Linked DNA regions of Homo sapiens: region 1 is linked to region 2. The links come from fine-mapping of genetic effects on gene expression. A gene starts in region 2. The other region holds a variant in brackets. All regions are shown on one strand. Distances are from middle to middle.

Region 1 (2,895 bases), 29 kb after region 2:
CCAGAGTGATGCCCCAGACCAGGCAGGAGCTGAGCCACTTCCTAGCATCCTGCAGCCCCAGGCCCTGGTGACCCTGCCATGGATAACCCTGGGTCTGCCTCTTCTGCAGGGAGGTGGGTGCCACTGCCAGACTTCAGAGTAGCAGGCTCTGAGCCTGGCTGGCCCTTTTGCTCAAGGCCTCCTGAGTCCATATCACAAAGTCAGTGTTTGAGCACAGGGTTGGTTTACCCAGCACTTGCCTTACTTGGGGTGCAGGGGACCTCAAGCTGTTTCTCCTAGTCCCACTGAGGCACAAGAGAGGGGCTTTCTGTACTGCTATCTCCCCTACTGGGGCTCAACCCAGTCTTTTTTTTTTCTTTGAGACTGAGTCTCACTCTATTGCCCAGGCTGGAGTGCAGTGGTGCAATCTTGGCTCACTGGAACCTCCGCCTCCCGCGTTCAAGTGATTCTCCTGCCTCAGCCTCCTGAGTAGCTGGGATTACAGGCACGCACCACCATGCCTGGCTAATTTTTGTATTTTTAGTGGAGACGGGGTTTCACCATGTTGGCCAGGCTGGTCCCGAACTCCTAATCTCAAGCGATCCACCCAACTCGGCCTCCCAAAGTGTTGGAATCACAGGTGTGTGCCACCGTACCTGGCCTCCACTGGGTCTTAAGGGTGCCCTAGGGTGAAGATGGGAGGGCAGTCCAATGGGTAAGACCCTATCTCAAGTGGATGCTCAGGGCACAGGTGGCACCCCCCTCACTGGTCTGTCACAGGAGACACAGGGGCTGCTGCTGGAGATGCCACAGCCGTGTGGGAGGGGCAGGCTGGTGGGGCAACTGAGGAAGAGGATCCCAGAAGCCTGGGTTCAGACATGGCTCCAGGGGGCTCCTGGGTGCTGGAAACAGACGAGACACCCTCAAAGAGGCTGGTTCCTTCAGTCCATCCCCACTGACCGCTGCCAACCACCCCTTTCCTCTTCCCTTCAGAAACCTTTTTCCAGGCGGGAGGGATGGTAGCTGGGAAGCTTTGCTCTTATCTGGCATGTGCCCAGGCCAGGCACCGAAACTCAAAAGCCAAGCAGAGAATCTTTTTTTGTCTGCTTCCGATTGTCGTACCTTGTCCCTGAGAGACACTCATGGACCAGCCCAGCTTGAAAAGGAGCCAGAGAACACAAGAAACAA[C/T]CAGTAACTCCAAAGAAAGGTCAGGGTTTCAAGAACATTGTGCCCCCCCGGTTGACTGTGCAGAGCAAGTACCTCTTTGGATGGAGGTTTTATTTCTTTGAACTCTTGTTCCTTACAGAGGCTGGGAGTGGTTGGGCCCACAGGGTGGGGGTGGTGGACTCCTTGTCCTTGGGCCTGTTTTGGGGATGCTGGGTTGCGCACTGGGAGTGGAGTTGGTGGGGGCTCTGAATTCTCCCACGCTCAGTCTAGGGATGGGAGCTGCCTCTTTCTTCCCTCATGGGATGCTAATTATCCTCAACTTGTCTGGGAGAAGAAAGGAAGTAGCTGCAGGGGCTTAGCCAGGAGGAACACCTGCTCCCCTGCCCCACCGCCCTCCAGCTCTCCCTCCCTCCCTCCTTCCCTCTCTCTCAGATGCACACCAACACTAGGAGTATCCTTATATACGTATGTGCTGCTTCTTGACGGGGAAATTTGACAAGGGACTGGGGTGAGGGTAGGGGTGTCTTCTACCTGGGGAGGCCCAAGGGGCTGCGGCTGGGGCTTTCCTCAGCCTCATACAATCCACCGCCCCGCCCCCAACCCCTGCCCAAGGCACTCACGGTGCCTTGTGCCTCCGGGCTCTTTGCCGGTCTGGAAAGTCTGGGATCTGTGAATGGAAAAGCCTGGGTCAGAGCTGGAGTGGGGAGTGGGTGGGGGTTGGGAGCTGTGTCTACAGAGTTTAGAGTTTTCTTGGTCTGAGCCAGGAAAGAGTCTAAACACCCAGCAGTGCTGAGTCCTTGCCTGCCCTGTGCAGCGTGGACCTTCCTCGGCCCAGCTCTCCTGCCCTATGCAGGCTTTGGGAGTCCCTGAGGATTTTCAAAGAGCCCCAAGGCGCTGGGGACAGAGAAAGGTGAGGCCAGGTTGTCATCCTGAGGGGGAACAGGCACACACAGCCAGCAGGGGCCTGATGGTAGATGAGACCAGGGTGACGTGGCAAAGCTGCTTCAGTCTGGCCACAGCACTGCATCGACCTGGACTCTTGAGCCTCTCCTAGTGTCCTGCTTCTGAGAGCCAGCTGGACATCTCAGTGGGGAACAGGACAGTCACTCTCGAGGCAGGAGGATCGCTTGAGCCCAGGAGTTCGAGGCTACAGTGAGCTGTGATCACACCACTGCACTCCAGCCTGGGTGACAGAGGGAGATTTTGTCTCAAAAAAACAAAAACAAAAACAGACAAACAAAAAAGACTCAGTGTGAAGAGGGGAGGGGGACAGGGCAACTCCAGTGTTTCCTCCAAAGTGAAAGTATGCCCTCGGGTTTGGAGGCTGGCCCTCAAGAAGCATGCCCAAAGCCAAGGGCTTCTTGGAAGCATTTTATCTCAAAAGTAGACATGAATCTTATATTCCACTATGTGATTCATTTTTATACAAAACCATGTTGGAGTTAATATGAAATATATATATATATATATATATATGTATGTGTGTGTGTGTATTTTTTGAGATGGAGTCTCACTCTGTTGCCCAGGCTGGAGTGCAATGGTTCCATCTCGGCTCACTGCAACCTCTGCCTCCTGGGTTCAAGCAATTCTCCTGCTTCAGCCTTCCCAGTAGCTGGGATGACAGGCTCCTGCCACCACACCTGGCTAATTTTTGTATTTTTAGTAGAGATGGGCTTTTGCCATGTTGGCCAGGCTAGTCTCGAACTCCTCACCTCAGATGATCCGCCCGCCTTGGCCTCCCAAAGTGCT
Region 2 (2,895 bases):
GGAATATCTGGCTGAGCGAGGCCCACAGAGGCGCCTACCCTCCCACCTCCATCTGTGGGCCTCAGCAGGACTCCAAACTCCCATGTCTCTTCTGTCTGTTCTCTGTGTCCCTGGGAGCCAACGCCCTTGGTCTGGGGTCCAGCCCCGCTGCTGGTCTCTGATTCCAGCCTCCGTGATGGGTGGCCCCTGGGCTAAGCACTATTTGGAACCAGGAGCCTGATGTGGCTGCCCCTCCCTGCGTGGGGAAGAGGCCAGCCCGGATTCTCCCTCAAGTGCCCTGCCACACCCCCCCATCCTTCGCTGATTCCAAACTCCTTATCTTGGCATTTAAGGCTTCCGAGTCCCCACTCAGTGACTCCTTTGAGAGCACCATGTCTTGTCCTTCCTCCCTGCCTGGCTCCCGGGGAAATCCACCTCTCCTCGTAGTTTTGCAGCCCCTGCCTTTGGTCCTGTTCCCTTACTCTCAGAGCAGTTCTTGTACCACCTCCTCCAGGAGGCTCGCTGTGATGTACCCAGGCCCACTGAGTGTCGGTACTCTTCCTCCTACAACAGCTCTCAAATTCAGCTAGAATTCAAGTTCAGCCAGCACCCCAGGCAGAGCCTCCAGCCCACTTAACTGAGGCCAGTTCGCAAGCCACTGCCCACGAAACACCAGAAGCTGAGGCGGGGAAAGCAGGCTCCTTGATGAGCCACAAGGGCTGAGGAGGTGGCTGCCTGGCATAAGCCGACCGCTGTGGACGGCTGTGCCACAGCACAGGCCCGGAGCCAGGAGCCCGCTCTGGCTCTGCAGCCCGGCCACGCTGGGGCTCCCATGGGGTTGCTGGGGCCAGGCTGACTGCGAGAGGGCAGCGGCCGCCCGGATGCGCAGCTCTATCTCCTACCTGGCCGGGCCAGGGGAGAGAAGGGAGGCCCGGGGCGGGGGAGCCCCGCGTGCTCAGCGCGCGGACCGCCTTTCCTCCTCTCCCTCCACCTGGTCCGCTCGCCCGGAGTCTGCACACAGCGCAGCTGGAAAATGTTACTTCGCTGGAAAGGTTTCCGCTGGCACTGCCAGGATCCCAAGCCGCCGCGCCAGGCCCCCTCGGTTCCTTTTTCCTCGCCAGCCCCGCAACCTCCCGGAGCGTAGGGCGCTCGCCTGGGCAGGGGCTCGGCCCCGGGCGCCGCCCCCTCTGTGCAGCGGCCTCGGGGTGCCCGGGGCCTCGACGCCCCCCGCGGGTGCGGGCAGGTGGGAGCGGCGACGCGCGCGGGCCCATCCCTCCCTCTTCCCGCCCGCCGCCCGCCCGCGCTTACTTGTGCGGCCCCGGGCGCAGCCGCGGGCGCCATCCCGTCGTGTAGAGACTGTAGCGGGAGGCACCGGGCGGCGCAGGCCGCGCCAGGAGCGGGGTGCCCCTGGCCTGCGCCCCCGAGAGCAGCGCCGCGACGGCGCACAGCCAGACGAGCAGGCGGCGGCGGCCCATAGCGGCCCCCGCGCCTCTGCCCGGCCCCGCGCGGTGCCCCCCGCCGGGTGTCCGCCTGCAGCGCCGCGCCGCCCCCGCCGCTGGTCGGCCCGGGTCCCGCCCCGAGGGTCCCGGGGTCCCCTTCGGCCCCCGAGCTCGCTGGCCCGGCCGCCTGGCGCTTCGCGGCGGCTGCGTCCCGCGGAGTGGCCGGCGCTGCTAGCGGCTGGGGCCGCGGAGGGGAGGCGGGAGGCGGGCTCTTTGCGGATTAGCATAAACTTGGGGCCGCGCCGCTCGCCGCCGCCAGCCCCTCGCCCCAGCTCCGAGCGGACGGCCGAGGAGCCGCCTGCGAACAGGAGGTTCCAAAGGGAGCAGCCCCAGGTGGCAGGGGCGCAGGCCGCCGCGCCCTGGGAGGCCCCCCGAGCACACCAGCCACTCTGTCGCCTGCGGGCACGGGGCGAGACGCAGAGAAGCGGACCCCTGAGGCCAGCCTGGGCGTGGACTTTCCAGGAGTCGTCCACCCTCAGGATACGCTTGTCTTCAGAGTCCGTGTGAACCCGGGAACTGCTCTCCAGGGCTCTGGAGCCGAGATGGCCGTGACTGGGGGCACAGCAGCACCACCTCCCCCGCCACCTCTTTGGAATAGACCCCAGATCATCCCCGTTTGCTCGCTCTGCCTCCTGGCCCCATCATTGCCCGGGAACCTTAGTTTGATAACTCCGCTGACCTCTCCCCAGGCATCCCACCTCCCCCTTACCCCGCAACCTCTGCCACGTAGCCTGGTGGCCCGGTTGCACCTCTGGTTCTCTGGAGGCGCCTGTGTTGCCTCTCTGTCTTAGGTATGGGTTGCACCGAGCCCGAAAGGCCTATCACCGCCCCAGCCCAGCCAAAAGTGCTGTGCTTTTCGTGCAACTGAAGCTCTAAGCCGGCTGGTCAGAGAAAATCCTCAGGTCTTTCTCACAAGGCACTGCCGCGGTGAAGCCAGGCGTCGTCCACATTTTGCTTGTGAAGTTGACTCTTGGAACCCAAGAGTTGGGTTTTATCGTCGTCCTCATTCAGTATCACCTTGCTAACTCTCTAACCTGCACAGAGTCCTTCTGATTCTGTCATCAGAGCGGTACTTTCCTGGCCTTGTCTCATCCACACCGGTGGCTACAGCCGTCTGTGTCTTTGCCCCAGGAGCTGATAGGTGTACAGAACTCTGGGGCTTGCTTGGAGAGACCTCCCTCCAAATTGACCTTGAGATATGAATTAATGCCTTTTGGATAGGGTGATGGTTATCAAGGATACTGGAAGGGGCAGCTCCGAAACCCACATCTATTTCCTGCCCTTAGCTTTAGTGGCTTTTGGGTTCTGTGGGGCGGACATCTGACCCCAGCTAGGCCCATCCTGCTTTCCCCCAGGCTTTGGAATCAGAACACAGAAGCTGAAGGAATCCAGCTTCCAGGTGTAGGTTGTGTGAGTT

Which allele goes with the higher level. Positions count from the first base shown, and alleles are read on the strand shown. Sizes are in standard deviations (SD) of each study's normalised expression.
With allele T in place of C in region 1, the expression in testis of the gene that starts at base 1,638 in region 2 is higher (large effect, 1.0 SD a copy in GTEx).

The links. PIP is the estimated chance that this variant, and not a neighbour inherited with it, causes the effect.
Region 1: its variant is fine-mapped to the expression of EMILIN3 in testis (GTEx, PIP 0.99). The same link has a PIP of 0.9 or more in thyroid.

The regions. Positions count from the first base shown.
Region 1 is chr20:41,394,283-41,397,177 of GRCh38, forward strand. No RefSeq gene overlaps it. Among named protein-coding and RNA genes, the nearest start is that of EMILIN3, 29 kb to the left of the region's middle. The variant C/T (reference allele first, on the strand shown) is at 1,168.
Region 2 is chr20:41,365,181-41,368,075 of GRCh38, forward strand. It overlaps EMILIN3 (elastin microfibril interfacer 3), which reads right to left and starts at 1,638. Exons shown (of 4, transcript NM_052846.2): 1 at 1,288-1,638. The coding sequence starts at 1,454. RefSeq lists an enhancer at 375-876.